4 linked regions of the Homo sapiens genome follow. The protein of the gene in region 4 interacts with the protein of the main gene of each other region in a biochemical or structural test. Each region holds a gene or a part of one and is shown on either strand. Other genes may lie near its edges. The genes, in order: SRF, TLE1, TLE6 and FOXG1.

Region 1 (7,952 bases), on a different chromosome or scaffold from region 4:
TTCTATCAGGAAAGTGAGGATGGACACCTGTCCCCTAGGACGAGGGTCGTTAATCCGGCTCCACTCCACATCGGTGGGCACCTATCCACCTGTCCTGGGCCAGAAAGGGAGAGGGACCCCACTCCCTTCCCTCCTCTCACATAGGCAACCCAAACACACCTTGGTCTCCCCACTGCTGTCAGACTCCGACACCTGGTAGGTGAGATCTGTCTCTTCAAAGCCAGTGGCACTCATTCTCTGGTCTGTTGTGGGGTCTGAACGGGGTGGAGAGTCTGGCGAGTTGAGGCAGGTCTGAATCAGTGCCTTGCCGGTCTCACTGGTGATCATGGGCTGCAGTTTTCGGGTGGCAAAGGTATACACATGGCCTGTCTCACTGGCCACCAGCAACAGCACCTGTGTCCCTGTCAGCGTGGACAGCTCATAGGCCTGAGGGGTGAGGAGGGAGATGGGCAGGTCAGCAAACTTTTTATCTCTACCTTCCTTGAGAAGTTGGAAAAAGAATTATACAGTGATGTCATTCCCCCATTCCCATAATGACCTTCGTCTCTAATGACTCTGAGGGCAGGGTGTCCTATCAGGATCTCTGGAAGCAGCAAAACTACCCATGCTCCTCCTTTGAGGAGCAGCCCCATTGACCTGAAGATACCCCAAGCAAACAGTAACAGCCCCCAGTGATGGAACATATAACTTCAGGGGATACGAAGGACCCAGCTAGCTGCTCCCCAACACAGCTTAGTGCCTGGAATGTCCCAGAGCCTCACCCCTTCTCACTGTCACAGGGACCAGGATGGATCCCTACCTATCACACTGGAATTTGTACAAGACATTAGTGATAATGGACCATTTAAGCTCCAACTGTCCCATGTTTCTTTCCAGAAACTGCACAGGCTCCAACTTGTTGCCACAGCCTAGTTTCTCCTTTTGCCCTGTAATACTTTACTGCCCTTACTCCTTTGTCTTGGGAAGAAGGTTATGGAAGGAGAGAAGAGAGTTTTCCTTAATTACCTCCCCCCACAATCTTCTCCACTGATGATCAAGTGACAAGGGACACTGATACAACAGTGTCTGGAGTGATGGGAGACGAGACCTAGATTAGCACTAAACATCCTGCCATGAGCCCAGGAAGGGGACCTTCAAGGATGGCCCCATAGATGCCATACTCTCCCAACAAAGTTCTGCAAACCACCTTGGAAGCAGCTCTGGTTTCTACATGGGACAGAAATAAACACCAGCCAGTGTTCCCAAGGATCCAGCTCCTTGTCTCCCAGTTCCTCTGCTTTCATCTCTTCCCTTATCGTCTACACCCCAAAATGACTCCTTTCCTCAACACTTTTCACTGGCTGGCAGAAGAGGAATTCCTAGGTACCTCTGCAAGCCTCCCTGACTTCCCCCAAACCCCATCCAAGCATAGATTCTCCCTAGGGCTGGAAACCCCACTTGTCCTAACGGCAGGAGATTCTGCAGCGGGTCCTGCCAGGAGCATGTGGTTCCCAGTGGATGCCATGGAAGACTCACGGCCGGCGCAGGACTAGGTTCCTGCTGCTCAGGGCAGCACCAGTTCTCCTGCCCCGCTCCCTTACCTGGTCCCTAACCCTGCCTGTCCTTCCAACCAGCACTACTCTCGTGGTGCCCACTTCCTCCCACACATGTTCGCTCATTGTTGTCATGCAGCTCCAGCCTCCTCACCTCCATACCTTCTCGTTTGCTCCCTGCTTTTCCGGCGCCCTCGTCCGAACACCGGAGTGCACTGGACCTACTGATCCCGGGTTCTCATTATCCACCTCCCCGGCAGCCTCGTAGCCTCCCATCACCGCTCCTCACCCCTTCACTCAGCAAGGGCCCTCTTCCTCTCTGGCGCCGGTCACTCCCACCTCTGCGCCTTTCCCCACGGTTGCGAGCGTTCGCGGGATCTCCCCTCTCCCCACATTTCCCCGGCGGCCCCTCCCCTTCGGCCCTCCCCGGGCAGGAGCCATCCCCTCCCACACACCTCCTGCGGACTCGCAGCCTCTCACCTCCGCCTCGGCTCTGCGGTCCTCCCGGGCTCCCTTTGCACATCCCCACCCCAACCGGGCCCCGGGGCCGGCCAGCCCCCCGGCTTGGTACCTTCTTCATGATGCCCGTCTTCCTCTTGCTGAAGGTCGTGTAGCGCCGCAGCTTGTTGTCGATGAACTCCATCTTGATCTTCACGCGGCCCCGGGTCTTCTTACCCGGCTTGGCCCCGCTCACCGCGCCGCTCACCGGCCCGTAGCCCCCGGTGGCCGCTGCCGACGCCTCGGGCCCACCGACCACCATACCGATCTCCATCTCGCTCAGGCTCCGCTTCAGGCCGCGCCGCTCGGCGCCCAGCTCCTCCTCCTCGCCCGACTCCGAGTCGCCCTCGCTGCCGCTGTAGAGGGCCCCCGCGGTGGGCGCCGGGGTGGTTGCCGCCGCTGCCGCAGCCTCCCGCTCCAGGCGGCCGGGCCCGAGCCCCGCGCCATTCCCGGGGACCCGGCCCCCGTTAGCCCCGCGTGTCCCGCCGCCGCCGCCCGGCCGCCCCGTCGGGGTCCGGTTCAGGCTGCCCCCCAGGGCCGAGCCCCGGCCCAGAGCCGCCGCGGCCCCAGCTTGGGTCGGTAACATGGCGCTCGATGCAGGAGGGCGGACGGGCAGTCAGCGAGGAATCGGAGCCGCCGCAGCCGCCGCCATCGGCTTCCCGGCTCAACCCGGCACTCCCGCTGCTGCTAGTGCCGCTATCGCTGCCGCGGCCGCCGCTGCGAACCCGGGGCCCCTGCACGCCCGGGCCGACCTGGGCCCTCACTTTCCTGCCCCTGTGGCCCGGGTTGCCCCAGGCCGCGCGCAGCGCCCCCTGTCCGTCTGCTAGGGCGGCGCGCCGGGCGGCCGTCAGCGTCCCCCGGGGGGCAGGGGCTGCTGGCCGCGGCCGAGACGGCGGGTGGAGGGGGCCGGGACCACGCGCTGGCGGCGGAGGGATCCCCCGACCCTTCCCCCCATATAAAGAGATACAATGTTTCCTTTTATGGCGAGGCCGCTCCTTATATGGTGAGCCCCAGCGCCCCCGCCCCATTGGTCCGTGGTTCCGGCACCTCCGCTCCCCATTGGCCCACAAGAGGGCGCTTATTTGCATAGACATACCGAACTCGTTGCTGTCATCTCGCGTCAGACCGCGACTCTGAGAGGGGTGGAGCCGACGCCTCTTAAAGGAACCGGAGAGCAGGCACGATTCCGCCTCCCTGAACCCGAGAATGATAGAACGGTTTGGGAGGCACCCGCGGAGAAGGAGGCTGGGACTGGAGCGCAGTCTTGCGGAAGAGAGGGAGCAGCACTAGTAAATGGGCACCGGGACCGCTGGAGGCAAACACTGGGGAAACCCCTGGGTGGATTGTGGGGTTTGCAGTAAATAAAAAAATACAGCCCAAATTCCAAGGGAGGAGTGCAGGGATTGATTGGAGCATTTCCTCACGCCTTCCTAAGGGAGGCACAGTTATTGGCTGAGCGGAGAGAGCTTGGGTCCCCGCCCGGTGTCCAGACTCGTCGCGCCCCAGCCTCTCAGCTCTAACTTTTCCCCTACCCCCAACTTCCCTTCCCTTTCCCTCGCTTTTGTAGGCGACGAAACTTTCCCACCGGGCTGGCTCGAGGATCTTCATTCATCATCCTCTGCACTGGGGGGTCTTTGGCAGACATACATCTGGAAAAGGCTGGTGGAGGGGAGGGCGAGAGAGAGAGATCGGCCTCCCAGTCCTGAGGCGGGCAGGGAGGAGAGACGGAGATCAGGGAGGAGAGATGGAGATCAGTGAAGACTTCCAGCTGCAGGCTGGACTTGGGGAGGAGGACGTCCCGAGGATAAAGCCCACCCTACAGCCAGTGCAAAGACTTGGGAAAGTGTGGCCCGACAGAAAGTTTAAGCCCAAGCAAGCACGCTCGCGCACACACACGCACATACACACACTTCTCTGGAAAGCCCGTTGGAGAAAAAAAAAAAAGTTTCACACAGGGTATCGCTCTGTCGCCCAACCTGGAGTGCAGTGGCGGGATCTGAGCTCATTGCAACCTCTGCCTCCCGGGTTCAAGCGATTCTCCCACCTCCGCCTCTCACGTAGCTGGAACTACAGGTGCGCGCCACCACTCTGGCCTAATTTTTGTATTTTTTGTAGAGATGGGGTTTTGCCATGTTGCCCAGACTGGTTTCGAACTCCTGGCCTCAAGCGATCCTTCCCCCTCGGCTTCCCAAAGTGCTGGGATTATAGGCATGAACCACCGTGCCCAGCAGAAAAAAAAAAAAAAAAAAAAAAAAACTTAAAAGATTAGAACTGGGGTGCTGCAAAGTGAGGTTCAAGCTCTGGGTCTGGGTCTTTTCTCCAAAGCAGTGAAAATAGCTTGGACTTTGCTGTTACAGAATTATTTAAATCTGGAATCTGCCTCTTGGTAAGCCCTGTGCCTGGAAACAAGTGACAAGTGATCTGATCTCTCCAGACGCAATATTCATCAATGCTGCTATCCATTCCCTGAGTTTTTTTTTTTTTTTTTTTTGAGACAGAGTCTCGCTCTGTCGCCCAGGCTGGAGTGCACTGGCACGATCTCGACTCACTGCAACCTCTGCCTCCCCAGTTCAAGCGATTCTCCTGCTGCCTCAGCTTCCCAAATAGCTGGGATTACAGGTGCCCACCACCACACCTGGCTAGTTATTTTGTGTTTTTAGTAGAGATGGGGTTTCGCCATGTTGTCCAGGCTGGTCTCGAACTGCTGACCTCAAGTGATCCTCCCACCTCGGTCTCCCAAGGTGCTGGGATTACAGGCATGAGCCACCATGCCGGGCCTATTCCATGAAATTCTTAATGCAGATTTAATGACATAAAGACTAAAGGGCAGAGTAATTGGTCAGTGGTTAGGCAATAGGAGTTACCTGGAGTAAGTCACCTCATCCTAGGGATAAAGCATCTTGGCATGTTTAAGGGGATGGGAGGCAGTGATTATTCCTGCCCGAAAAATTATGGAGATTAAATAAAGCAGTTGATTGTAACCTAGTCATTACTGGTAGTGGTAGTGATATCAATTCAGTATACTACAATCAACATTTAAAAGAATAAATTAATGGGTATCACAAAAAGCAAGGGCAAATATTGTTGCATAAAATGTTTGTTTGCATTATATATAGGTTGAACCCTACAAAATTGCCATTTTATAGGTCAAGAAGGTGGGATATTGTCAATTTCTCATAATTCAGTGTATGTGTGTAATGGATGACAATATTAACTGCATTTCTTACTGTGAGTCACAATCCAAAAGCTTGAAAAATACTGAAATAAAATATGTGCAAGTGATCAGTAAAATATAGTGTGTATTTTGTGTGTATAGTGAATAAAATATAGTGTGTATTTTTTGTCATATAGAGATAAGGTCTCCCTATGTTGCCCAGGCTGGTCTCAAACTTCTGGGCTCAAGCGATTCTCTCACCTCGGCCTCCCAAAGTGCTGGGATTAAAGGCCTGAGCCACTGCACCCAGCCCCCAATAGTTTTAAAGAGGTCTCCCCTCCCTCCACTAATTTACTCTTTACAACAGGTACTTAAACATATGGAACGTGTTAGCCCAAGAGGAAGAACAGGTCAAACAGATAAATAGGTTCCAGAAGGGTTTTAGGGACCACAAATGATGCCTGGGGTCATGTTTTGTCTGAGCACCATAATATTACAGCCAAAGCTCTGGGATTTCATTCCCACCTGCCCTCTAAAGACCCTTTCATTTGCGCCCCCTAGTTTAGACACATGCAGGGGTGACATCCCTCAGCAGGGACAACTGCTCTCTGTCACATCTATAGGGGAGGGTGTCTGGGAAGAACGCAGTCCTTAGCTTCCCTTCAAATAGGCTGCCCTCTCTTCAACTTCTCCCAACTCCTGGGTCATTGCACACCAGTGTTAGTGTCACAGCTTCTCTGTCTGCTTGGGATGGCCCATCTTCATGTCCTTTGTCACCACAGGGAGTCAGGAGGAGACCTCTACCCACACTATTGGATTACTGCAGGTTCCAGAGCCAAAAGTATTGCTAGGGATAAAGTCAAAATCAAAAACTGTCTCATAGAGGTGTTTTATTTGGACCTTATAACATTTAAAAATCATAAGAGTTTACATAAAAATCTGAATGTCTGGCCGGGCGTGGTGGCTCATGTCTGTAATCCCAGCACTTTGGGAAGCTAAGGTGGATGGATCACTTGAGGTCAGGAGTTCAAGACCAGCCTGGCCAACATGGTGAAACGCCATCTCTACTAAAAAAATAAAAAAGTAGCCGGGCATAGTGGCACACATCTGTAATCCCAGCTACACGAGAGGCTGAGGCAGGAGAATCACTTGAACCTGGGAGGCAGAGGTTGCAGTGAGCCTAAATGGGGCCACTGTACTCCGGCCTGAGCTACGGAGTGAGACTCCTTTTCAAAAAAAAAAAAAAATCTGAATATCTGACCTCTCTCAAAAAAATCAGAATTTTTGGTAACACTGGGCCTAGGTACCCACAAAAGCATTATAACCTGGAGCTGATGGTGGCCATAGAAGAGGCTCTCCACTTTACCATAGACTCCACGCAGCCTACTGAGCCTAGGTAAGCTCCTGCCTGGCTGCTCTGAAATGTGAAGTTGAAATGTTCCTCCGAAAAGGCCTGATCAGAGTAGCACCTTGCAACAGATGGGAGCTCATGTCCACCCCAGACCATGAAGGGCCTCTGTAAGTGCATGGGAATTTCAGCCAGATCCCTCACACCACACAGATTCCACCCTGACCTTTCTTTCTTTCTTCTGATTTTTATCACCTAACTAATAACAAACAAAAATTAAGGATTGCTTTTAAAAATTACTGTCATGGCTGGGTGCAGTGATTCACACCTAAAATCCCAGCACTTTTTGAGGTCAAGGTGGGAGGATAATTTGAGTCCGGGAGTTTTGACACCAGCCTGGACAACACAATGAGACCCCATCTCTTAAAAAAAAAAAACACAGGCAGGCAAGGTGGGTCATGCCTGTAATCCTAGCACTTTGGGAGGCCTAGGAGGGTGGATCACCTGAGGTCAGGAGTTCAAGACCAGCCTGGCCAACATGGCAAAAATCCCACCTCTCCTAAAAATACAAAAATTAGCCGGGCCTGGTGGTGTATGCCTATAATCCCAGCTACTCAGGAGGCTGAGGCAGGAGAATCACTTGAATCTGGAGGGGAGAGATTGCAGTGAGCCAAGATCGTGCCACTTCATTCCAGCCTGGGTGAAAGAGTGAAACTTCATCTCAAAAAAAAAAAAAAATGCTGGGGCACAGTGGCACGCATCTGTAGTCGTAGTCCCAGCTACTAGGGAGGCTGAGGTGGGAAGATTGCTTGAGCCCAGGCTGCAGTGAGCCATGATGGCACCACTGCACTCAATCTAGGTAAGAGGAAAACCCTGTCTCAAAAAAGAAAAAAAAATTACTGTCAAAATACCCTAAATCTGTTTTCATTTGGAATTAACCTTTACTCAGGGATTCATAATTTTGCACAGAGGCAAAGAGGGTATCAATTGTGATGGCAGCATTAGCAGTAATGGAAAAGAATTTATGAGTCATTGTGCCCAGGAAAAGTCTGGAAAGCCACACTCCAAACACTAATAGTGCTTACCTATGGAGAGTGAGGTTTGGGATGAGAGGGGTGTGTTTTTTTGCTTTATATAAGTTTGTACCATGTGACTTCTTTGACAATCAATATGACTTTTATATTTTTCTTTTAAAATTAAGCAAAAATAGGCCGGGTGCGGTGGCTCATGCCTGTAATCCCAGCACTTTGGGAGGTTGAGGCGGATGGATCGCTTAAGGTCAGGAGTTTGAGACCACACTGGCCAATATGGTGAAACCCTGTCTCTACTGAAAATACAAAAAAAATTAGCTGGGTGTGGTGGCGGGCACCTATAATCCCAGCTTCTGGGGAGTCTGAGGCAGGAGAATCGCTTGAACTCA
Region 2 (7,729 bases), on a different chromosome or scaffold from region 4:
CCAAGCCACTTCGCCTCATCTGTGTGCTTTTTCTCAAGCATGACAAAAGCAAAAAATGTCAATACAGTTATTTCTGAGTTAGAATCAGGTAAAACTTCATAGGAACAAGGGAAAGAAACTAACCTTTCTGGGAAGTTCACTATTGGCAAAGTATTTTACAAAAATTTATAAGTCCTTTGAAGGTAAGTCTCATTACTTGAAGAAACTAAGGCTGAGATGGATATAAATGTGACTCCACTCTCTCATCCTACCCAAACCAATCCGAAATGACGCCAAAGCAGGTGAGCTTTCTTCTTTATACTATTATACCCACCTCCCTCACCATCACCAATGATGGGCAATGTTATAAGCATCTAGCCTTCCTTAATGGACTTTGCCTCAGAAAACCCAATTTTCTAGTATGGCAAACAGCGATTTCAACATGGCTTTGCTTCCCTGAACCCACACTCCAGGACTGAGACATCGATTGAACCAATGTTTCAGCTCAGTCTGCTGAAAAATAAATACATGAAGTGCAAATATTGACGATTCTCATGCAACTCCTAAAGACATGAAAAAGGACTCCCTGGAACAGTGCAAACCGGCAAAAGGGAAACAATGGGAGGAGGAGGAGACAAGAGAAGAGGCGGCCCGGGAAGAACCAGGAAAGGGGGTAACTTGAATGACAGGTCTTAACTGAGACTCCACACGCCACCGCCTGGACGCAAGAACTAAGTACAGGCGCCGCCGCCACCCGGCTGGGTGCAAGGGGCACCGGGACGCCCGCGACCACTCGCATGGCGCGGCCGGACACGCACCTGTGATACTGCGCCTGCAGGAACTGGAATTCCTCTTTAATCCGGTCCAGGGACTCCGGGATAGTGAACTTGAAGGGCTGGCCTGCAGCCTGGTGCGGCGTCTGGGGGCGACCAGCGAGGGGGACCGAGGGACGGGAATGCGGGCGGATGAATAAAGCAGTAAGTCAGAGAAGGCAAGAACGGGTGGGACATAAACATAAAGTTAGAAGTGGCTGAAAACGAGGCCCCAAACTCGAGTTTGCCCTTCACTATGGGGAGGGGGAAAGCGGACCCTCCCCGGGCCCCGGCTTCTAAAGAGGCTCGGAAGCTCTTCCCAGTCTCCAGGGCGGATTGCGCTAAGTGCGCCCGGGTCACCAGGCCAAAGGGAAGGGGGCTCCCCGGCGGCCAGGGAAGACCAGGCCAGATTGTCGGTGTCGCCGCCCCTTCCCCCACGGCGGCGATAATGACCCCGGGGACCAGAGGAGAAAAACAACTCCTTTACGCTCCCCATTCCCAGAGTCGCCGGGGCCACCTCCAGACGCACCGGAACCGGGGCCGCATTGACATGTAAATAGGCGAGAGGAGAAACAAAGGGGGGGGCGCCCTGCCCCCACTCGGGGAAGGTAGAGGGGATATGGCTGCAGGAGAGAAACCCCAGCCTTCCCCAGCGCCCCTGTCCGCTCGGTATAGACGTCAAGTAGGAAGGAGCCCAAAGGGAGGGAGAAAATTAAGAGTTTCGGCCCACTCCCCACCCCAGGAAGAGAGGGCCCCAGACCTCCCCAGCCTTACACCGCTGAGGGCGAGAAGGTCCGCCGGGCCTCAGAAGCCACCAGTCTCCCTACCGCCCGGGAGAAGCGCCTCCCCAACGATCCTGGCCCCCCACCACCACCCAGCCGCGCCTCACCGGGTGCCGGCTCTGCGGGAACATCGCTCTGGCGGCGGCCGGGGCTCTGTTCCCCGGCAACTCAATTCTCCGGTCAATTTCCAACTTTAATCCCGCCGAGGAAAATTAAGCCGGAAAGCCAAGCAGAAGCGGGGAGCGCGCTGGCCACGCACGCGCGCTCCGCCGGGCGCACCGGCCACTCGGCGCCCGCAGCTGCTCCGGCTCCCGCTCCCGTCGGTGCGGGCTCCGGCCCTCAGGGCCACATTAGTGGGCGCCCCAGGCCCAGCTGCTTCAAGAACCTGCGCGGAGACGTCGGGCGCTCGGGGACTGTGCGCGGGGGCAGCGCTCCAACCCCCGGCCTCAGCTGCCCGGGCGGGGAGGCGGGGGCGCGGTGACTCCGACCGCACTCCCCTCGGCGATCCGCGTGCGCGGCGCCAGTCCTGGGCAAACAAATCCAGACGGACTGCTTTTCTTTGCTCTTCTCCTGGTCCGCCTCCTCTTCGGGCTTTCCCCGAGGCGGCGGCGGGCGAGGTGCAGGTGGCGCGGCGGCCCCCGCTAACCCCACACAAACCCGACGCTTTCGGGGCGACTCCCGCAAGATTCGGCTGCGCCTTCGGCCGGGTGCTCGCAGGCTCCCGGGACGCAAAGGGGAGCGAGGTTGAAGACGCAGCGGAGGCTCCTGGCCGGGGAGCGACGGATGACGAGGCGGGGAAAGTGCGGAGGGCGCGCCGGGAGGCGGCTCGGCACGCCCCGTGCGACCAGCACTCGGTGTTCTCCGCGGTTGCACAAACCCTCCGGGCCCGACGGGGCTACTCCACCGAGAGCAGTCCCGCAAGTGCCCAATGCTCCTCGAGCCCGGGGAGCATCAGGGCGCCGCGCCTCGGGCGCACTCGCCCTGCACGGCCGGACCGGCCGCTCCGGACCCTTCTTCCGAGCTCCTTCTTCCTCGGTCTTCTTTCTTTCCTTCCTTCACCTTCGTGTGCTTCTCCGCAAAGGGCGCTCCAGCCCACTGCAAAGTTCTCTCACCACCCGAGGGACGACATCCACGAGATGGTGGGGAAAACAGCAGGAGTGCGCTCCGCCAATCGGCCACCCTCCCCGGCGGGCAAACTCTGCGGGCGAGTCCAGAGTAGTCACAGCGGTGGGGCCAGCGGGGGTTTTGGTCGCCGCGGGACGACGGAGGTCCGGGCTGGTGGCGCGGGTCCCGCCCGGCCGTGCGAGGGTGGGGTGGCGCAGTCGGCTGCCTCCGGGACGCGGGGCACAGAGTACCCGCCGCTGTTTCTGCTGCTGCTGCTTCTGCAGCCGCCGCTCCCACCGCCGCCGCCGCCCGCGCCTCTCGCGCCGCTTACATTAACACGCGGTTTCACACTCCGGAGCTAACCAGCGCCGGCCCCGCCCAGCCCCGTTCGGGCGGGGGGCGCGAGCGCGGAGCCGGCGGGGGACGTGAGCCCGGGAGGTTGGGGGGTGGGGGGGGGGCAGAAGGCCCGCATCAGCCAATCGCGTGCGCTGCAACCAACGTGGGGCGCTGACGCGCTCCTCCCCGGAGCGTATGGCAGCGCAGCGCCGGACGGGGCGTTCTCCCTCCCCCCCTCCTCTCGCTTCCATCTCCGCCGTCTCCTCGGTCTCCCTTCCCATCCCGGCCCCTCCTCCGCCAGCCGCGTCCTCCCGGGCTTGGTGAGGAACTGTTCCTGGAGGAGCCGCGGGACGCCAAAACCAGCCAATGGGAAGCGGCGATTCGCGGAGATTGGCACTGATGATGGGAAGGTCGGTGGGAAGGAGAGCGGCGGGGCTGGGCTGTCAATCAAAGTAACGTGGGGCTGGCTAGAGAGCGCGCGGGCGCGCGCTAGCGGGAGGGACTGGCGAGCGTGCAGCCGGGGAAGCTGAGGGCTCGAGTTAGCAAAAATCCTGCCACTTGCTCACTTTTCCCTTTAATGAAAATCCTCAGATCTAAGTGAAAGTAACTCAAAGACTAGCTGCGGAGTTTCTTATTGGAGGCGGAGGGGGGCTTTTGGTAATTCGAGCAAATGTGTTTTTCAGTGCTGGACCCCTTGTTTGATGCTACTCTAAAAGTGAGGCCACATTCAAAAATTTATCTGAGGTTTGTTTTTCCTTGAGCTGCCTTTTTACGGATGTACGAGAGGGAGTGGACTGTGCACTTAGTTGGAAATGCGTAAATGAGCAACGCCACGGTTGGCGTAGGTACACCAGCAAAGACGACTGTGATGTCCTCCCACCCCACCCACCCCCTTTGCACCCAAAGTGGTAGGATTTGATTTTTATTGCAGGATTTCAAGCCACTTTTCAAAAAGATCGTCCTGTCCCGTTTGGCGGGAAGGATTCCCAGGGTGCTGCCAGAACAAGGCACGCGTGTCCGCAGATGAGACGTTTTGCCCGGGGCGCGAAATCCCAGGTCTTCGTCTTAAAAGTCCTGACTTCGCTGTGTTGGGAGAGGTGGGGAGCGGCTGAGGTTTTTAGGAACTTCTCAGCTACAAGACTACGAGTCTGTTTCCAATTCCTGGGAACAAAGAGAGACAATGTAATAAACCAGCACTGAGACCTGAAAAACCTGTCCCGCACACCCCACCCCCACAGTCTGGGTGGTACTCCTGAGCTGAGCTGTGTGAAGAGCTAAATGGGAAGAGTTAGGTAAATGACGTGGCTAAGGTTCTTATGAAGTGGAACTTGAGTTAAAAGGGATTTTGAGATTGTAATAATCAAGACATGCTGTATAATTAATGCTGAGAGTCTTTGGTTTTTGTGTATGTCTCTAAATACACAGCAGAAAACCGTCAGTATTGCCGCATTTATGCTTTTGTTTGAGGAACATTTCCACATGAGCAGTGAATGAATAATGCTGGTTTAGCCAAACGGTGGTAACTTCTTCCATAAGGGCACATCTTGGACAAGTATTTATCTTATGTTGGAAACTAGTTAAGTTTTTGGTATTAATAACCCCCACGTTATTATTTTATTATTTTACCTTCAAGAGACTTACGGGAAGGAGCTTATTTAAACAGACATACATTTTATTTAAAGATGTGCTTTTACAGAGTTCTTTTTCTTGAAATAGTTTTAGAAGTCATTTTAGATAATACATTTCACTGTTGGAGTTGTTTTTAAATATGTATGATATTGATTTGTCTATAATTGCATCACTCCCAAATATCAATTATAAATGAAAAAATAAAAAAGCGATTTTAACCAGTCTGTACGAAGCCATAGTAAATTCTTAAACAAGTTGGGCATTGTAGCTTTGTGGTGTTCTCATTAAGTACAGTTGGGAAGGCGGCTGTATTATTCATTTTGCTAACATGGAGAACAAAAAAGAAGAAAGCACTGCCTCACTTTCCTTGGTTAAATTTGGTGACGATGACAGTTTTGCTCGACATACAGGACTTTTTGGAATCATAGGATCCCAGGGCCTTTAGCAACCTGTTTTCCTTGAAATTATCTAGTGATTGAGCCACATATACCAGTCTGCGGCCAGTTCATCCCATAATCAGCTCCAGGACCGGACAGAAAGTGCTTGGATGCCACAAGTATGCTTGTATACATGCTGTGACAACTGGAGCAACTGATATTCCTCCCCGGCTTACCCAGGCTTTATGTGGTGCCTGTATCTTGAATAACTGGCACACTCCCATTAAGTTTAAACAGAGCCATTAAAATATGCTTTGAGATGGGGCAAAAGTGTTGCTACTTCTCTTCTTTCCCCACCCCGCTGCCCTCAAAATCAGTACTAAGGCATCTTTAAATGTTCTCTAACATAACTACTCACAGACAATGTGTCTGCTCACCATATTTCCCAGTTTGCCATGAGTAAACACTAGAAATTCTCTTTTAACTAGTCTTTCCTTGCCAATAGAGTTTGAAACACCAGGCCTTCTGATTTCCTTATAATGAAGTATCTGTAGTATCTACAGAGCATTATGAATTTAAAATTGGAAGGCCTTTAATTGTGTGCATAAAAATGGTTGGTTTTGGTTTTTGAAGCCTTTTTTTCCCATTTAGAGCATCGTCTGTCAGAGTGGGAGAAGGCTCTGCCCTTTTCAAGGTCATATTTTCTCCACGATTGTCATGCTGTAATAATTATACTACAAAACTCTCATCAAACTGCATTACAAATGACGGCGTTTAAACAGTCAAGTAGCTTTAATCTTATGTTTTAAATAAATAATATATGTGCAGATTGCCTACAGCCTGTTTAAAAGAAAATAGTCCTCCTCATGAAATCTATAATTTTGGTCTTCCATTTAAAGCCTGTTAACCATAATCTTCTTTACCTTTAACATTCATATGTCAATGATGTTTTTATGTGAAATGTATGATGCTCCCACTGGAAATTTTCTCTGAAAAACACAGTACCCTTTTTATGCTCTGCAGAGAAACAGAAAGATTGTCAGCTTGTTCATTTTCTTTTGATGCATATGTGGGTATATTCCCATTCATTTGTTGCTGATTATCAAATTTTCAACTCAGCAATAGCCTAAGTAATTACAAAAGCTAGATGTTATCTAGTACAGATACTAAACAAAATAGGAAAAGTTATAGATGCTGATCGTAGCAACTAGACATCTTTTAAATCTATTACTTTTTTATTTGAAATAATAATTGTAATTTTTTAATTTTTTTTGGAGACGGAGTCTCACTCTGTCTCCCAGGCTGAAGTGCAGTGGTGCCATCTCAGCTCACTGCAACCTCTGCCTCTTGGGTTCGAGATTCTCCTGCCTCAGCCTCCCCAGTAGCTGGGACTACAGGCGTGTGCCACCACACCCGGCTAATTTTTATATTTTTAGTATAGACGGGGTTTCGCCTTGTTGGCCAGGCTGGTCTCAAACTCCTGACCTCGTGATCCGCCCTCCTCAGCCTCCCAAAGTGCTGGGATTACAGGCATGCACCACCACACCTGGCCAATAATTATAGTTTTTAACAGACCACTTTTGTTGTGTTCTCTTCCTTTTAGCTGAGAATTATTGCTCATACATTTCCTCATTTGACTTTTTTTTTTTTTTTGAGTCAGCATCTCGCTCTGTCACCCAAGCTGGAGTGCAGTGGTGCGATCTCAGCTCGTTGCAACCTCCGCCTCCGAGGTTCAAGCGATTCATGTGCCTCAGTCTCCTGAGCAGCTGGGATAACAGGCGTGTACCACCACGCCCGGCTAATTTTTGTATTTTTAGCGGAGACAGGGTTTCACCATGTTGGCCAGGCTGGTCTCGAACTTCTAACATCAGGTGATCCGACCGCCTTGGCCTCCCAAAGTGCCGGGATTACAAGCGTGAGCCACCCCGCCCCACCTTTTTTTTTTTTTAATTGATAGTTTTCTTAAACCTAAGAATGTAGGGTCCAGAAGAATTTTTCCCAGCATTTCTTGGTAATCTTTTTCTCCCCCACTCCTTTACCAAAGAAAAGGGCAAGATGGACGTGGAGGTGAAAGGAAGAACGCAGAGAAGGGAAAAAAAATCAGTAGCAGATCCATGCAGCAGTAAAACCTCAAATAAAATCACTTCCAAAGAATCTCTTGCGGTTTCACACAATATGGTAAAATTAGAGATTGCAGGAAACCAACTAAATTAAACTGGGAGCATTTGAAGAGAAATGAGCAGACTTTATGAAAATGACACATTGACTGACCAGTATGCTTTTTTATCAACAATTTCTTTGTTAAGACGAAGATCAAAGGAACCTGCATATGTTTTCATTTTGTTCTAACTAGAAAATTACATCCAGATGTTTAATAGGCATTTGGTTGGTTTTTCAGCATTGATTAGATATGTTGGTTCTGTTTGCTTACAAGTGCAGCCGGATCATTAGCTAATGCAAAGAAATGTTTGCTGTGAGTTGCTAATTAGGGCTTTTGGAAGCCCTCCATGCTCAAGAACAATTTGTACTGTGGCCAGAAGAACTTGAGGGACTTGGGGAAGTTGTTTTCCCTTCTCTGTCAGAGTGGGGAGAAGCAGAAAGCCCTATTCCCTAATCTCCCTTTGCCTAGGGGGATTGCGATGAGATCCCCAAGGATTGGAGTGCAAATAAAGTAGGAAGAGACCACACAGGCACTCCCAAACATGGAGAG
Region 3 (7,016 bases), on a different chromosome or scaffold from region 4:
TAGGGTCCTGGAAGCCCTGGGCTGTGGGTCCTGGGCTACTCCAGTATAGCCTCCTGGATCACCCAAGTCCCCCCCGGGGGACCCGAGGGGCAGGATGGAAGGAAGACAAATCCCACAGGAACCCCAGTGCCCTGACCTGGGGGAGCCCAACCGCCTGCCCGGAAGCCCACCCCTCTGGATAGAGCTGAGGTTGTTTACTCACCAGGCCTGGTGCCTGCTCTGTCACCATGACAACGGAGAGGAGGAGGGGGACAGAGAGAACAGCAGGGTTCACTGCACAGCCCCTGAGACGCAGCCTGTGGCTGCCCCTTCCCCCTCACCCTCAGGGACACTCACGTCTGTCTCTGGGCTTTGCCTTCTCATCGTGGACGCCGGCAAAAATCCGCCAGAGTTGCTCGGTCAGAGTGTCGTGCCAAAACCAAGGCTCCTTGTCCCAGAACAGCTGGGTCTCCGGCTGATTGTCCTCCCCCAAAGGCCGCCGGAGCCAGTCGGAGGACCTGGTGGCCATGATGTCCTCAAAGCTCGACTCCTGCAGGGTCTTGTCCTTCACCTGCTGGGGCGTCCCAGGGCTGGCTGGTTCAGCAGGTGAGACCTGGCCCGGCAGGAACAAGGCAGTGAGAGCTTTGAGGATGAGCCTTCACCCAAGCCTGTCCCCTCCCCTCCTTGAAGACCCAGAAACTCACCTCCTCAGACTGGAAACCCTGGAGTTGGCTGCAGCTCTCCACAATCTGTAAGACGTTTCCTATCTAGAAGGAGGTTGGCAGCAAAACAGTTAAATGTTGTTGCAGTTAAGGGTTTGCAATCCTACAGCATGATTATCCCCACCTGTAGAAGAAGGTATATCAATCTACTTGTTTTTTTGAGACAGAGTCTCACTCTGTCACCCAAGCTGGAGTGCAGTGGTGCAATCTCGGCTCACTGCAACCTCCGCCTCCCAGGTTCAAGTGGTTCTCCTGCCTCAGCCTCCTGAGTAGCTGGGATTACAGGTGCACACCACCACACCCAGCTAATTTTTGTATTTTTAGTAAAGATGGGGTTTCACCATGTTGGCCAGGCTGGTCTCCAACTCCTGACCTCAGGTGATCTGCCCACCTCAGCCTCCCAAAGTGCTGGGATTATAGGCATAAGCCACCACCCCCAGCCTTCATCTACTTTTTTGCAGATAAGATCTCACTCTGACACCCAGGCTGGAGTGCAGTGGTGCGATTACAGCTCACTGCACCCTCAACCTCCCAGGCTCAAGTGATCCTCCCATCTCAGCCTCCTGAGTAGCTGGGGTTACAGGTATGCACCACCACGCTCAGCTAATTTAAATACACTTTTTGTAGAAATGGGAGTCTCATTATGTTGGCCAGGCTGGTCTTGAATTCCTGGCCTCAAACTATCCTCCCACGTGTGCCTCCCAAAGTGCTGGGATAACAGGTTTAAGCCACCGCATCCGGCCTATCGCACCTGGCATATATCTTTTTTTTTTTTTTTTTTTTTTTTTTTTTTTTTTTTTTTGAGACAGTCTCACGCTGTGGCCCAGGCAGGAGTGCAGTGATGTGATCTCGGCTCACTGCAACCTCCGCCTCCTGGGTTCAAGCAATTCTCCTGCCTCAGCCTCCCAAGTAGCTGGATTACAGGCGTGTGCCACTACACAGACTGATTTTTGTATTTTTGGTGGAGACAGGGTTTCACCATGTTGGCCGGGCTGGTCTTGAACTCTTGACCTAAGATGATTCTCCTGCCTTGGCCTCCCAAAGTGCTGGGATTACAGGTGTGAGCCACCACACCTGGCCCCAGCTACTCTTTTTGGGATGTTTTAAAAAGAAAACCTGACCACCACCACACTTTGCTTCAAATGACTTCAAGCAGGCCGGGTGCGGTGGCTCACGCCTGTAATCCCAGCACTCTGGGAGGCCGAGGCGGGCGGATCATGAGGTCAGGAGATTGAGACCATCCTGGCTAACATGGTGAAACTCCATCTCTACTAAAAATACAAAAAAAAAAAAAAAAATTAGCCAGGCATGGTGGCAGGTGCCTGTAGTCCCAGCTACTCGGGAGGCTGAGGCAGGAGAATGGCTTGAACCCAGGAGGCGGAGCTTGCAGTGAGCCCAGATGCGAGATGATGCCACCGCACTCCAGCCTGGGTGACAGAGCGAGACTTGTCTCAAAAAAAAAAAAAAAAAAAAAGGCTTCAAGCAGCAAAACAGCATACCTAGGTCTCCCTAGGTGAGGAAGACGTTTTAATTTGCTTAAACTTTGGAAAGATACTAAGAAACTGAGGGTTACCTGCTGGGGAGAATTGATAGAAACAAGTCAGTGGTAATTTTTTTTTCTCTTTTGAGACAGTCTTGCTCTGTCGCCCAGGCTGGAGTGCAATGGCACCACCTCTGCTCACTGTAACCTCTGCCTCCTGGGTTAAAGCAATTCTCCTGCCTCAGGCTCCCAAGTAGCTGGGATTACAGGCACCCGCCACCATGCCCAGCTAATTTTGTATTTTTAGTAGAAATGGGGTTTCTCCATGTTGGCCAGGCTGGTCTCGAACTCCTGACGTCAGGTGATCTGCCCACCTCAGCCTCCCAAAGTGCTGGGATTACAGGCGTGAGCCACCTCACCCAGTCTGGTGTTTTATTTAAAACGAACAAACAACAACAAAAATCAAGCCATCTGACCACTGTCAATCCCGAAGTTAAATGTAGTTTCTCAGTAAACAGAATAAAATCGAGATCAATACCATCCAGTACAAGTAGAATTGGAATAATACATAAATATAGTCATGCATATGGAATGTCTAGTAGCCATGTTCAAAGTATAAAGAAATTGGCCAGGTGCGATGGCTCACACCGGTAATCCCAGCACTTTGAGAGGCTGAGGCGGGCGGATCACCTGAGGTCAGAAGTTCGAGACCAGCCTGGCCAACATGGCAAAACCCTGTCTCTACTAAAAACATAAAAGTTAGCCAGGCATGGTGACACACACCTGTAATCCCAGCTACTTGGGAGGCTGAGGCAGGAGAATCACTTGAACCCAGGAGGTGGAGGTTGCAGTGAGCTGAGATCCTCCCACTGCACTCCAGCCTGGGAGACGGAGCATGATCCGTCAAAACAACAAAAAAAGAAAGCAAGGCGAGTGATCCTATCTCTTAAGTTTTTTTCTACAAAAAGGCTACCTGTCTGTTTCCTTAGCAGGACGGCGGAGGGAGGGGCCGGGAGGGGAGACCCTCCATCGGAGCCCCGCGGGGGGGGGGGGACTCCAGGCTGATGCCTCCTGGGGCAGCCAGTGATGGATTTCCCAGCTGAGCCCGCCCAGCAGCAGCAAATCCCAGGGGAGCCCTCTCCAATTCACCCCGCCTCGTTAATGCGCAATTTACCGGCACTTTAATGCGCTCAGCATGAAAAGTGTGGCTCCCTTGTGCCTGCTAGCAGCCCTCCCGGGGGAGAGTGGCAGGCGGGCTGTCGGAGGAGGGGGCTGTGCTGATGGCGATTTTGAAAGCACAGCGAGGCGGCTGGGAAAGCCCGGAACTGGAAGCAGCGGGTGGGGGAAGCGGACTGCCCAGGACCACAGGCCAGGCTGGGCTGCCAGGGATCCTGGGGCCCCCTGCAGTGGGGGCTGGGCAGGGACCCTCCTGGGTCTGGCTGCAACCGAAGTGGCTCCTTTGCTCTGGAGCCCTCACCCCCTGCGTATCCTGATGCTCAGCAGCTGCGGTCAAGTTCCTCCCAAAACACGTCCACAATTATTCAATTACTTCTCATCACTAAGCAACCAGCATTCCACACCTGGACTGTCCTAACTGGTTCCCGGGCTTCTGCCCTCATCCCTCCTCCTTCTTCTCTGTCCTCTCCGCAGTAGCCAGGGCCTGCCCTCTGTCTGAAGCCCTCCATGGCTCCCACCTCCCTCCCTCAGGGTTCAAAGCCCAAGTCCTCCCTGAAGCTCACAGGGCCATGCGTGGCCTGCCCTCCCCCCCTCCTCCTCTCACTCTGCTCCAGCCATGCGGGCTTCCTCGTAGTGCCTTCAGGACCAACACAACAGGCACCGTCCTGCCTCAGGGCCTTCACACAGGCTGTGCCCTCTGCCTGAAATATCCCTCCCATCCCAGACAGCCACACTTCCTCTTTGATGTCCTTTAAGCCTCCGCTCAGATGTCACCTTCTCGCATGCCTTCCCTGACCACCCTGAATTGCAACCCTCGCCCACCCTGGCCTCCCCAATCCCCTTGGGGCTGCTCTCTTCCATCCCCCGCCTTGCCCAGCCCTCATCCCCTAACACTCCATCTACCAGGCTCCACTCGCCCCAAGGGTGGGAAGCTCTGCGTCGTTCTTTGCTATTTTCCTGGCTTCTACAACAGTATTTGGCAAGGAGGTGATGGATAAATATCTGCTGAATGAATAACCATGTTTTGGTTGCTTCCTGGCCCCCCCTCACCCTGTTCCCTTCGCTGCCCCCCTCCTCCCAGGCCCTGCTAAGTTGCAGACACGGCCCTGGGCCCCTGCCAGTTACATCTGGCACAGGCGGAAAATCCTGCCAGCGCCTGGGAGAAAAGGCCAGGTGGCGGGAGGACAGGCAGGGCTGGAAGGCGTACTTCTGCTTGGGCCAGGCGCCCTGGGCTGGGAGATGGGAGCCCGGGCGCCCCCTCCCATGCAGAGCTCCCCTCACTCCCATGTCATATGGCCCCTCATTGAACACTCAGACACGCAGGGGAACACAGCCGGGTGCCTGCCCCATCACAGGCTCTCTCTGTCCAAAGCAACTGACCGGCAAAGGGTCATCTAGGTTGCGCAGGGGCCCAGGGAGCGGAAGGAGCAGGACTGACCCTCTCTTGGAAGCAGCTCAGAGACAGGACAGGAGATGCTCCCCAAGATATGGGGCCTCCACTAATATCACGGGGGCTTCCAAGTCAGGGCATGTCCCTCCTCTGCCAGCAGTCCTCCATGGCTCCCACCTCCCTTGGGGTCAAAGCCCAAGTCCTTCCCACGGCCCACAAGGCTCAGCATGACCTACCCCTCGTCCTCTGTCTTCACCATCCCCCACCTCCTTTTTTTTTTTTTTTTTTTTTTGAGACAGAGTCTCGCTGTCGCCCAGGCTGGAGTGCAGTTCCACGATCTTGCCTCACTGCAATCTCCACCTCCCGGGTTCAAGCAATTCTCCTGCCTCAGCCTCCCAAGTAGCTGGGACTACAGGCGCCCGCCACCACGCCTGGCTAATTTTTTTATTTTTAGTAGAGACGGGGTTTCACCATGTTGATCAGGCTGGTCTCGAACTCCTGACCTCAAGTGATCCACCCTCCTCGGCCTCCCAAAGTGCTGGGATTACAGGTTTGAGCCACTGTGCCCGGCCCCCCTCTGTGCTTTCTCATGCCTTTCATGGAGGGACAGCCGCACCCCTGAGCTCCTGGTCACCCACCTGCTTGTGATGTTCTGCCACATCCTGCTGGATCTTGTGCAGCTGCAAAGGGAAAACAGAGATCCCATCGGGAGGTGGTCCGGGTGTGAATGCTGTGTGACCCTGGGCAAGCTGCTCTACCTCTCTGGCCCCTACTCCCCCACCTTAAATTTTTGTTTTCACCTTGTTTTCTCTTTTACTTTCTTACTACACTGATGTATGGTCCCTACCTTTTTTTTCCTCAGAGAGAGTCTTGCTCTGTTACCTGGGCTGCAGTACAGTGTGATCTCAGTTCACCGCAACCTCTGCCTCCTGGGCTCAAGCGATTCTCCTGCCTCAGCCTCCCGAGTAGCTGGGAGTACAGGCACCTGCCACCATGCCCGGCTAATTTTTGTATTTTTAGTAGAGACAGGGTCTCTACTATGTTGGCCAGGCTGGTCTCCAACTCCTGACCTCAGGTGATCCACCTGCCTCGCCCTCCCATAGTGCTGGGATTACAGGCGTGAGGCACAGTGCTTGGCGGAAAAGAACCTCTCTAGGGCACTCAGGAGGCAGGGCCGGGAAACCAGGGCCTCAGCTTGTCCCAGTGGGGCCCTCCTTGGTTGGGGCTGCCTGGGTCTGGCTCACCGAGTAGTAAATGCTCTCCAACTCCGCAGCAAAATGAGGAGAAAACCTGAGGGGGAAGGAGGACAGGCTGGAAGACCTGTGGCTTCAGGACTCCCTCCCCAGAGTGAGCCCCACCCTCAACCCCTAGGGAGGGTCTCAATGAAGCTGGAAGGCACTGGCTCCAGAAGCCAAATTTAAGGCAGTGTCAAGAAGTTCAGTAAGATTTTAATGCAGTATATTCTTTTTTTTTTTTTTTTGAGACAGAGTCTCACTCTTGTCACCCAGGCTGGAGTGCAGTGTCACTGCAACCTCCGCCTCCTGGGTTCAAGAGATCCTCCTGCCTCGACCTCCCGAGTAGCTGGGATTACAGACACCTGCCACCACACCCAGCTATTTTTTTGTATTTTTAATAGAAACAGTGTTTCACCATGGTGGCCAGGCTGGTGTCAAACCCCTGACTCCAGGTGATCCGCCCACCTCGGCCTCCCAAAGTGCTGGGATTACAACAGGCTTGAGCCACCGCGCCCCGCCACTTTCTTCAATTTTTTTTTTTTTAAACAGAATCTCACCCTGTTGCCCGGGCTAGGGTGCAGTGGTACAATCATGGCTCACTGCAGCCTCCAATTCCTGGGCTCAGATGATCCTCCTGCCTCAGTCTCCTGAGTAGCTGGGACTACAGGTGTGCACCACCACACTCAGCTAGATTTTTTTTATTTTTTAAGAGATGGCATCTCGCTATGTTGCCAAGGCTGGTATTGAACTCCGGGCTCAAGCGATCTTCCTGCCTCTGCCTCCCAAAGTGCTGGGATTACAAGTGCAAGCCACTGCACCCAGCCCATGCAGTACTTTTTTTTTTTTTTTTTTTTAAAGACCGAGTCTCACTCTGTAGCCTTAGGCTTGAGTGTAATGGTGTGATCCTGGCTCACTGCAACCCTCCGCCTCCTGGGTTCAAGAGATTCTCCTGCCTCAGTTTCCCAAGTAGTTGGGATTACAGGCACCCACCACCAAGCCTGGCTGATTTTTGTATTTTTTGTAGAGACGCGGTT
Region 4 (7,962 bases):
AAATTAAAGGAGCAGTTTAAATTTTAGTTTGGCTGAAAAAGCCTTTGAATTCCCTATAAGTTGATTGGTCTTTAAAAAATTAGCTCTACTTAATAAAAGAGACAAAAGTATCAAGATATATATGAATTTAGCCTATTTTTTATTTCTGTGTGTTCATAGTAAACATTTTTGTAAGTGACAAACACGGGCATATGACCACAGTATCACAATCAAGAAATTTTAAGACAACATTAACAATCACTCAAATTTATGCGGCATTTGCGCAACACAGGTTACATATTTGCAAGGTTTACCTATAAGTACAATAGGTATTAACATTTCACTACATTTAGAAAAAATAAAAGTGACCTGTTAGTGACCACATACATCAAAATATACACAACACAAACTGAAGGCAATCGTTAATTTTGTCCCCTTCTGATTCAATTGAATGGGCAGTGTTGCCAACTGAAACAACTTTCCTTTTTGTTTGTTTTAATACTTAGTATACCAAGTGCATTTTCTAGAACCCAATCTTTGGTCTAAAAGTAAACAAAAGAAAAAAAAACAGTTCTTTAAAGAAAAGGACAAAACAATAAATGGCCAAAATAATTTCTTGGGCACCTTTACTACGAATGCTTTTTAAATACAAATTACAGTTTAACATTTTAAAATTCTCCCCATAATTTAGGTTGTTCTCAAGGTCTGCGTCCACCATATAGTTCCATGATAACTTATAATACTGCACACATGGAAATCTGGCGGCTCTTAGAGATAGACTTGTCAGGTTTGAATGAAATGGCAAAGCAGTCACTATTTAGATACACATTCTACTATAATTTGACTTCCAAACCTTATATTCTACAATGTATTCTCCCCACATTGCACCTCGCTGACACTCCACACCTTGTTAGAATAATAAACAACCCTAGAGACTGAACAAACGTACAGAAATGGGAGGGGGGGGCTTAATAAAAAATACCTGGACTTATTTTTTTAATTATCATTTACAATGCAAATGTGTGTAAAACGTTCACTTACAGTCTGGTCCCAGGGATGTTAATGTATTAAAGGGTTGGAAGAAGACCCCTGATTTTGATGTGTGAAATAATCAGACAGTCCCCCAGACAGTCCCGTCGTAAAACTTGGCAAAGAGGGTCTTAAAGACTCACAGGGCAGGGTCGAGGGGGCCTGCGGCGACGTGGAGGAGGACGCGGCCCTGGCGCTCATGGACGTGCTGCTCTGCGAAGTCATTGACGGGTGCGGGACGTGGGGGAAAAAGTAACTGGTCTGGCCCGCGAGCAGGTTGACGGAGCAGGGGTTGAGGGAGTAGGTCCCAGAGCAGGGCACCGACAGGCCGCAGGGCACCGAGGCGGCTAGCGCGGCGGCCGTGAGGTGGTGCGTGGCGTACGGGATCTCCCCGTTGACCAGCCGGTCCACGCTCAGGCCGTTGGCGGTGGAGAAGGAGTGGTTGTTGCCCAGCGAGTTCTGAGTCAACACGGAGCTGTAGGGCATGGGGTGGCTGGGGTAGGCCGACGTGGTGCCGTTGTAACTCAAAGTGCTGCTGGCGCGGGGGTGGTGCAGGGACAGGAAGGGCGACATGGGCCAGTAGAGGGAGCCGGCGCGGTCCATGAAGGTGAGGCCGGTGGAGGTGAGGCGCGCACCGCGCTTGAAGGCCAGCTTGGCCCGCGAGGTGGTGGAGCGGCGCCGCAGCTTGCCCGTGGTGCCGCCGATGAACACGTCGTCGCTCGACGGGTCCAGCATCCAGTAGTTGCCCTTGCCCGGGTCGTCGTAGTGGCGCGGCACCTTCACGAAGCACTTGTTGAGGGACAGATTGTGGCGGATGGAGTTCTGCCAGCCCTGCTTGTTCTCGCGGTAGTAAGGGAAGTTCTTCATGATGAACTCGTAGATGCCGTTGAGCGTGAGCCGCTTCTCGGGGCTCTGCCGGATGGCCATCATGATGAGCGCGTTGTAGCTGAACGGCGGCTTCTCGTACTTGCCGTTCTTCTTCTCGCCCTCCTTGCCCCCCTCCCCGTCCTTGCCGCCCTCGCCCGCCCCCTTCTTCTCCTCCCCCCCGGCGCCGGCGCCCTTCTCCTTCTCGTCCGGCCCGACGGGCGCCAGCTCCCCCGGCCCGCCGCCCGGCTCGCCCTTGCCGCCCAGCCCGTCCGCTTTAGCCCCGTCCAGGGCGGCGGCCGGTGGTGGCGGTGGCGGCGGCGGGAGCAGCAGCTGCTGGGGGCCCTTGTCGTCGTCGGCGGCCGGGGCGCCCCGCGTCTGGGGGGGCTGCGGTGCCGGGGGCGGCGGCGGCGGCGGCTGCTGCTGCTGCGGCGGCGGCGGCGGTTGCGGGGCGGGCGGCGGCGGGTGGTGGTGATGGTGGTGGTGGTGGTGGTGGTGCTGGGGGTGGTGGCTGTTGTGGTGGCCGTGGCTCGCGTGGTGGTTGTCGTTCTGGACCGCCTCGGGCACCAGGCTGTTGATGCTGAACGAGGACTTGGGGATCATTTTCACCTCTTTCCTATCTCCCATGTCCAGCATCACCCAGTCGTCGGGGGGAAACGGCGGCGGCGGCGCGGGAGCGGGACAGCGGCGCGGCGGGCGGCGGCGACCGGTGGGTGCCGAACGGGGCGCGGGGGGCGCGGGCGGCAGCGGCGGCACTGAGCGCTCCGGCAGCAGCGCAGTTGGACCGCAGGCTCGGGCGCTGGCAAGTCATGTAGCAAAAGCAGCAACCACCCCTCAGGAATTAGAAAAAAAAAAAAAAAGGAAAAGAAAAAAGAAAGAAAGAAAAAAGAAACAACCACCGCCCCGGGGGTGAAGCTCCCTCGCTCCCAACTGTACTTCTTGGTCTCCCCCCCCACCCCCCGCTCCCCCCCCCGCTGCTTCCTCCTCCTCCTCCTCCTCTCGCAGCAGCAGTCACAGCAGCAGCAGCAGCAGCCCAAAGGGGGGGAGAGCCGGGCGGCGGGCGGGCGCGTCCCGGAGCGGCCGCGGCGAGGCTGGGGAGACAGCGATCGAGGCGGCTATAGCCACAATTAATTTTCCGAGCTACAGGCGCACACTAGGGCTGTAAAAAAATTTTTGGTTTAACCTTTCCTACCGCTGGGCCAATCAGAGCTGGCGGCGTGCGGGAGCGTCTCTCTCGCCGTCGACCAATCGGAGGGGCCGGGCCCACCCACCCCCGCCCCGCCCGCCGGCTGCCGCCCCCTCGGGCGCTCGCCTCCCCCTCTCCGCGGGCCTCGGACCCCGAGGCCGCGCGGAGCCGCGTAGGGATACGCCGGCGGGAGCACGCGGTGCCGCAGCCCTTCCCTGCGCCCCCGCCACCCCCTCCACCCCGCCGGCTCCGCTCCACCGAAATTCCCCTCCTAGGGCCAATAGCTCACATTTCCGGCTTCCTCCTCATTGTACTGGGTCATTTTCGTTTAAGCGTCAATATTTGTCCTTAGTGATTAAAGTTTGTATCCAATTTTATTTTTGAAAGCGGGGGTGGTGGTGGTAGTGGGAAGAGTGGGAGTGCAGGGAGAGGATGCGAGAGGGCAGGAAATGGAGGAGGTAGAGGCGAGGCACTACTTTTCCGAGTCGGCCTTGCAGGCCAGTGTCTGGCATTTCTGAGCCAGCAGGAAAATTGTGCCCTTTGTAGGTAATAGTCTAGCGCAGCTTTGGATAAGGGGGGAGATAAGGCCCACCGCTGGCGTGTGTGCGGGGGTGTCCTTTACTTCGGGGGAGGAGGGTGTGGGAGAGCTTTGGGAGCGATGAGATGAGGAGGAGGAAGTGGGCAGAGGAGCGCGGGGCCAAACAGGGGTTACTTACTCGATTCCTGAGGCCTGGGCGGCGGCGAGCTCCGGGCTCCGGCACCGCGGGGAAACCGGGACTGGGGCTCCGGGTGCTGCTGCGGCGGCCGGGGCCGCTCAGTAGTGGGCGCCTCTGATGGCCTTCCGAAATGAGAGGTGCCCAGAGAGAAAACAGTACCAAACAATCTCGAAATAAATCAGGTAACACATGCTATATACGTGTGTCTCTTCCTTTTCCTTCTCTCCTGCTCCAGAGCGTCGCTCACGCGCGGGGTGACTCGATGTCGTTTTCTCCTCGCCGCTCCAGCCTCAGCTTCTAATCCGAATTGGAAGCGGGTAGCTGCGAGCGATCACCCTGGAAATATTTTCGTTTTGCTTGTTGACATTGGAGGGAAAATAAGGGTGGGCGTCTATTTCTTTCCGGTTTTTTTTTTAAGCCTTCCTATTTTCACTCCTTTTTTTTCCTTTCCGTTTCTCAAATGCTTTTATTTTGTGCGGGCCTCATTCCTGAAATAACAGTATACTGAAGCCAGCTCTTGCCAACCCTGAGTGCTGCTGGAAAGCACCGGGGAGCCTTGGGAACGTGGATCTCACAGTCCCAGCTTCTTGGGCTTTGGAACTGGGAAGGTTCGGTTGGAGGTTGAAGTGAATGGGGAAATTGCGAATCGGGGGCTTTAAAAGGATCCCGTGGCCAGGGGCAGGGCTAAGGCCCAGCATTTCCCAGGGATTGGAATTTAGTGGGGAGCACATTGATCAAAGGCTGTTTCATCCCACATGGGCACGAAACATACCACATTTTACGGAGGATGTAGCCCCAGAGAAGAGGGAGGTGGAGAAGCATAAATGAAAGGCACCTTTTCCTTCCTCTAGAAGGTAAATAATTATAAAATGTAAGCATTTCTTCACTTGGATAAACTTTCATTAAGATATCTGGCAGATTTGGTATTTAAGAAAACGAAGGAAGGAAAATTGGTGCTTATGCTTGATCCTAAAGTTAAATTGTAACATAAAGAATGCGGTTGATGAATACTCAGGATAATAGGGGGTTATTCCATCCTCCCCACCCCCAGTCTTAAGAAAGAGAAAGAGAGAAAAGGTTGGGGGGGGGGGAGGAAACTGGAGAGAATAATAGATAATTACAAATAGCTAGTGAATTTTAAATATGCATCTATTAGGAATGCCACAAAGGAGCTTTGAATATTGGACTAACCTCAAATGTCCTTCCACTGTATGTATGTATCTTTACCTATGTCTACATATCTTCTCACTTTAAAACAAACTGTATTTACATGTGGAAAAATTCAAGGGTTCCAACAATCAGTGTTGATAGTGACATGGTCCCAAACATTTATTTCCAAGCTCTGGATTTCTCGCAGGGCCGGGTGAGCTAATGGGCTTTGCCTACCGGCTGGAGAGATTTGTGGGCCTTCCCCTTCCTACTCACTTTTCCTCCTCCCACTCTTCTCCCCTCTTCAGGCCCGTTCTTCCTACTTTTCCTCAACTCTCCTTCCTCCCTCCTCCCTCCTTCTCCCTTAGCTCCCCCCGCCCCTTCCCCCCACCCTCCATTCCTCTGTCTCTCCATTCCTCCACCTACTCCTCCCAATTTCTCCTCTTACAGCCCCCCTTCTCACCACCACTTATAATGGCACACAGGGCTCCCTCTGAGGTGGACGGCCCGGTACGTTTTCGTAGTCGGTCTAGCGTGAAATGATTCGGTGTAACCGGATTCTTGGGAAAGGACAGGTTACGTAAACATTTACTGATGTGGAGTAACTATACTATTTGTACTCTGATATGCAGGAAGGAAAGTGTTGATTAACACAGAAGAAAAAAAAAACGAAATTAGCTGATTGCATGCTCATAAGTGCAAGCTGTCATTGAACTGCTTTTAAAATAGACACAGCTGGGTGTTTGTGTTGAAAAATTTCTTGTGTTTTTGCTAATACTGAAATAAGCATGATTTTGTATACCAAACATTTTCAGATCATTAAAATTTGTAATCTGTGCTGGTTTTAAACACAAAGAAAAGAAACAGAATCATTTCGATGTAAAATTTGCTGATATTATATTAACTCAATCAGGTCTGTACAAATTGTGCATTGTGCCTCCTAAAATCTGTTTGATCAATTTAATACACAAAGTGCCAAACGTGGGTATTGTTTGTTAACATTGGACATTTTATTCAAATCCGAGCTCAGCAGCAAACTGGAGGAGCTTTCCTTCAATACAACACCAGCTCTGACTGATGAATTTTTAATGTTTTAAGGTGTTTCTTAGGTCAAATCTGAGCGTGCATTGTTTTGTAATCCTGTATAAAATTTTAGCAGGTGGAAATAAGTTTTTCTTCTGTTTACTTTCAAATAGCAAAAACTGGGGTTTGCTAATGAGCACTGTAATAATCTGATTTTATATGCTAGGAGCTCATATTGACTGGGAAAATGTTTTTCATTCAAATTAAGGCTATGTTATATAGTTTAAGGATTGCATGAATGCAAGTCTCTCAAAATAGGATATTCTTATGGGCATAAATAGTATATAGTTTAATGTAATATTTAAAAATCTATTCTTCCTAATGACAAAAGTTATTTGTAATCTGGCAAGAAGTGAGTTTTAATTCCTTTTAATAATTTCAATTGCACTTTATGTCGAGATGGTGATATATATATATACTCACACACATATATATGTGTGTGTGTGTATATATGTATATATATATAGCTTGTTCAACAAAACATGCACTGTTTACTCAGCACCCCGTGTTTGTCTCAGCAATAGCTTTTTTAAAGAACTGCTACTATTTGAAATGGAGGGGGAGGGGGGTCCTGGACAGAGTATTGTGCAAGTTGAAAGTCTCTGGATGGGGCTTTGTATATCCTACCAGCCAATTTGGGTGCAAATTGGATTTGAAGGCCTGCCTCTGTCCACCTCGGGCCTCTTCCCTAAGCACTGGAAGCCCAATCTTCAGCCCCACTCAGTCACCGTGATTACCTTCAGAAGACAGAGGGAATTCAGTTGTCTCAGACCTGAAACAAATTCTCTATCATTCTAATTTTTTTCTCATGATGGATCTAACCTTGATCTCTCACACAGACATCTACAAATGTGTACTATTAATGAATAAAAGCAGAAGTCAAAGTAAATGTAATTTTCTGGTATATATCACAGTAAACTTCTCTCTTGCTCTGTCTGCAGTCCCCCAGCTCTCCCAAAGAGGTCAGGCCCCGTAAAGAGTGAGCAGTTCCAATGGAAGAATTGGTTAGGAAATGAATTAGATTATTCCTTCTGGAGTTTTAATTAATAACCAAGGCTACACAGCATACTTCATCCGAGTAGGGAGCAGAACATTTCATTTTTCCATTTGGCGGTGTTATTTAAGTATTCTTTAGGGCCTCTTTCCTGTTTTCAGTCAGTGATCCGCCTCTTTTCTTCTTGCTAGCTGCTGGTTAAAGGAAGGTGGGCCCCATTTACCTAAAATCCACTCTGCTCTCCATTCCCTGGACAGGGTGTCCTTGGAGTGGCACCCAGCGCCAAGCTCTAGCTAAAGTTCTCTTCCTGCAGATGCACAGAGAATTTCTGACCTTGTGACGTTTGGGAGTGAGGAGATCCCATACAGAGGCATCCAGGTATTTCCAGAGATCCTGTGGCAGGTGAGGTCTGCCCTCGCTGGAGCCAACTCGTCTATAATATCTTCCTAACAGCAGGTAATGGTGCTAACATTTAGTGATTAGAAGTTACTCTTTAGCGTGTTGTATCCTCGTTCTGTGGGTTTTGGTTACAGGTTATACGATTAGGTTTGCGAGAACAGTAGTGAACTAAACTTCTCAGTAAGAGGTCTTCACACCAGGGAAGTGTTACTTTTCTGCAGCAGCCCTGCCTCGTCACTCATTAGGGAGCTGCAGGTTGTCAGTGGCTGCTCTCAGCGCGCGCACGCGCACCCTCAACGTCCCCGGGGGCGCGCACATTCGCGCGTGTGTGTACACACACACACATACACACACACACACACACACAGCACTAAAACTAAATTAAGAAGCCGATGATTAAGACAAGCGTCTACTAGGCCTGTCATTTCAGCATCCTTCCATCATAACATTGTGGCACCGGCAATTTTGCTTGAGAACCTCGAGTAAAAAAATCTATGGGAGAGCCTCGTCTATGAGAGTGGAAATGTTTAGCTTGTGTAAGCTAGGGAGCCACTTTAAAAGGG

The links.
Region 1: the proteins of FOXG1 (region 4) and SRF form a complex in vitro, tested with the Homo sapiens proteins (one study listed by BioGRID).
Region 2: the proteins of FOXG1 (region 4) and TLE1 form a complex in vitro, tested with the Homo sapiens proteins (one study listed by BioGRID).
Region 3: the proteins of FOXG1 (region 4) and TLE6 form a complex in vitro, tested with the Homo sapiens proteins (one study listed by BioGRID).

The regions. Positions count from the first base shown.
Region 1 is NC_000006.12:43,166,321-43,174,272, reverse strand, and holds the start of SRF (serum response factor), read right to left. Parts: upstream 3,005-7,952; 5' UTR 2,617-3,004; coding exon 2,104-2,616; intron 1,878-2,103; exon of another isoform or gene 1,809-1,877; coding exon of another isoform or gene 1,695-1,808; intron 427-1,694; coding exon 160-426; intron 1-159. UniProt on the Homo sapiens protein: SRF is a transcription factor that binds to the serum response element (SRE), a short sequence of dyad symmetry located 300 bp to the 5' of the site of transcription initiation of some genes (such as FOS).
Region 2 is NC_000009.12:81,686,537-81,694,265, forward strand, and holds the start of TLE1 (transducin-like enhancer protein 1), read right to left. Parts: upstream 3,012-7,729; 5' UTR 1,705-3,011; coding exon 1,681-1,704; intron 899-1,680; coding exon 798-898; intron 1-797. UniProt on the Homo sapiens protein: Transcriptional corepressor that binds to a number of transcription factors. Inhibits NF-kappa-B-regulated gene expression. Inhibits the transcriptional activation mediated by FOXA2, and by CTNNB1 and TCF family members in Wnt signaling.
Region 3 is NC_000019.10:2,980,559-2,987,574, reverse strand, and holds part of TLE6 (transducin-like enhancer protein 6), read right to left. Parts: intron 6,038-7,016; coding exon 5,992-6,037; intron 5,428-5,991; coding exon 5,386-5,427; intron 4,380-5,385; exon of another isoform or gene 4,261-4,379; intron 4,192-4,260; exon of another isoform or gene 3,962-4,191; intron 3,906-3,961; exon of another isoform or gene 3,356-3,905; intron 747-3,355; coding exon 684-746; intron 593-683; coding exon 337-592; intron 220-336; coding exon 203-219; intron 1-202. UniProt on the Homo sapiens protein: Component of the subcortical maternal complex (SCMC), a multiprotein complex that plays a key role in early embryonic development.
Region 4 is NC_000014.9:28,761,826-28,769,787, reverse strand, and holds the start of FOXG1 (forkhead box protein G1), read right to left. Parts: upstream 3,002-7,962; 5' UTR 2,509-3,001; coding exon 1,039-2,508; 3' UTR 1-1,038. UniProt on the Homo sapiens protein: Transcription repression factor which plays an important role in the establishment of the regional subdivision of the developing brain and in the development of the telencephalon.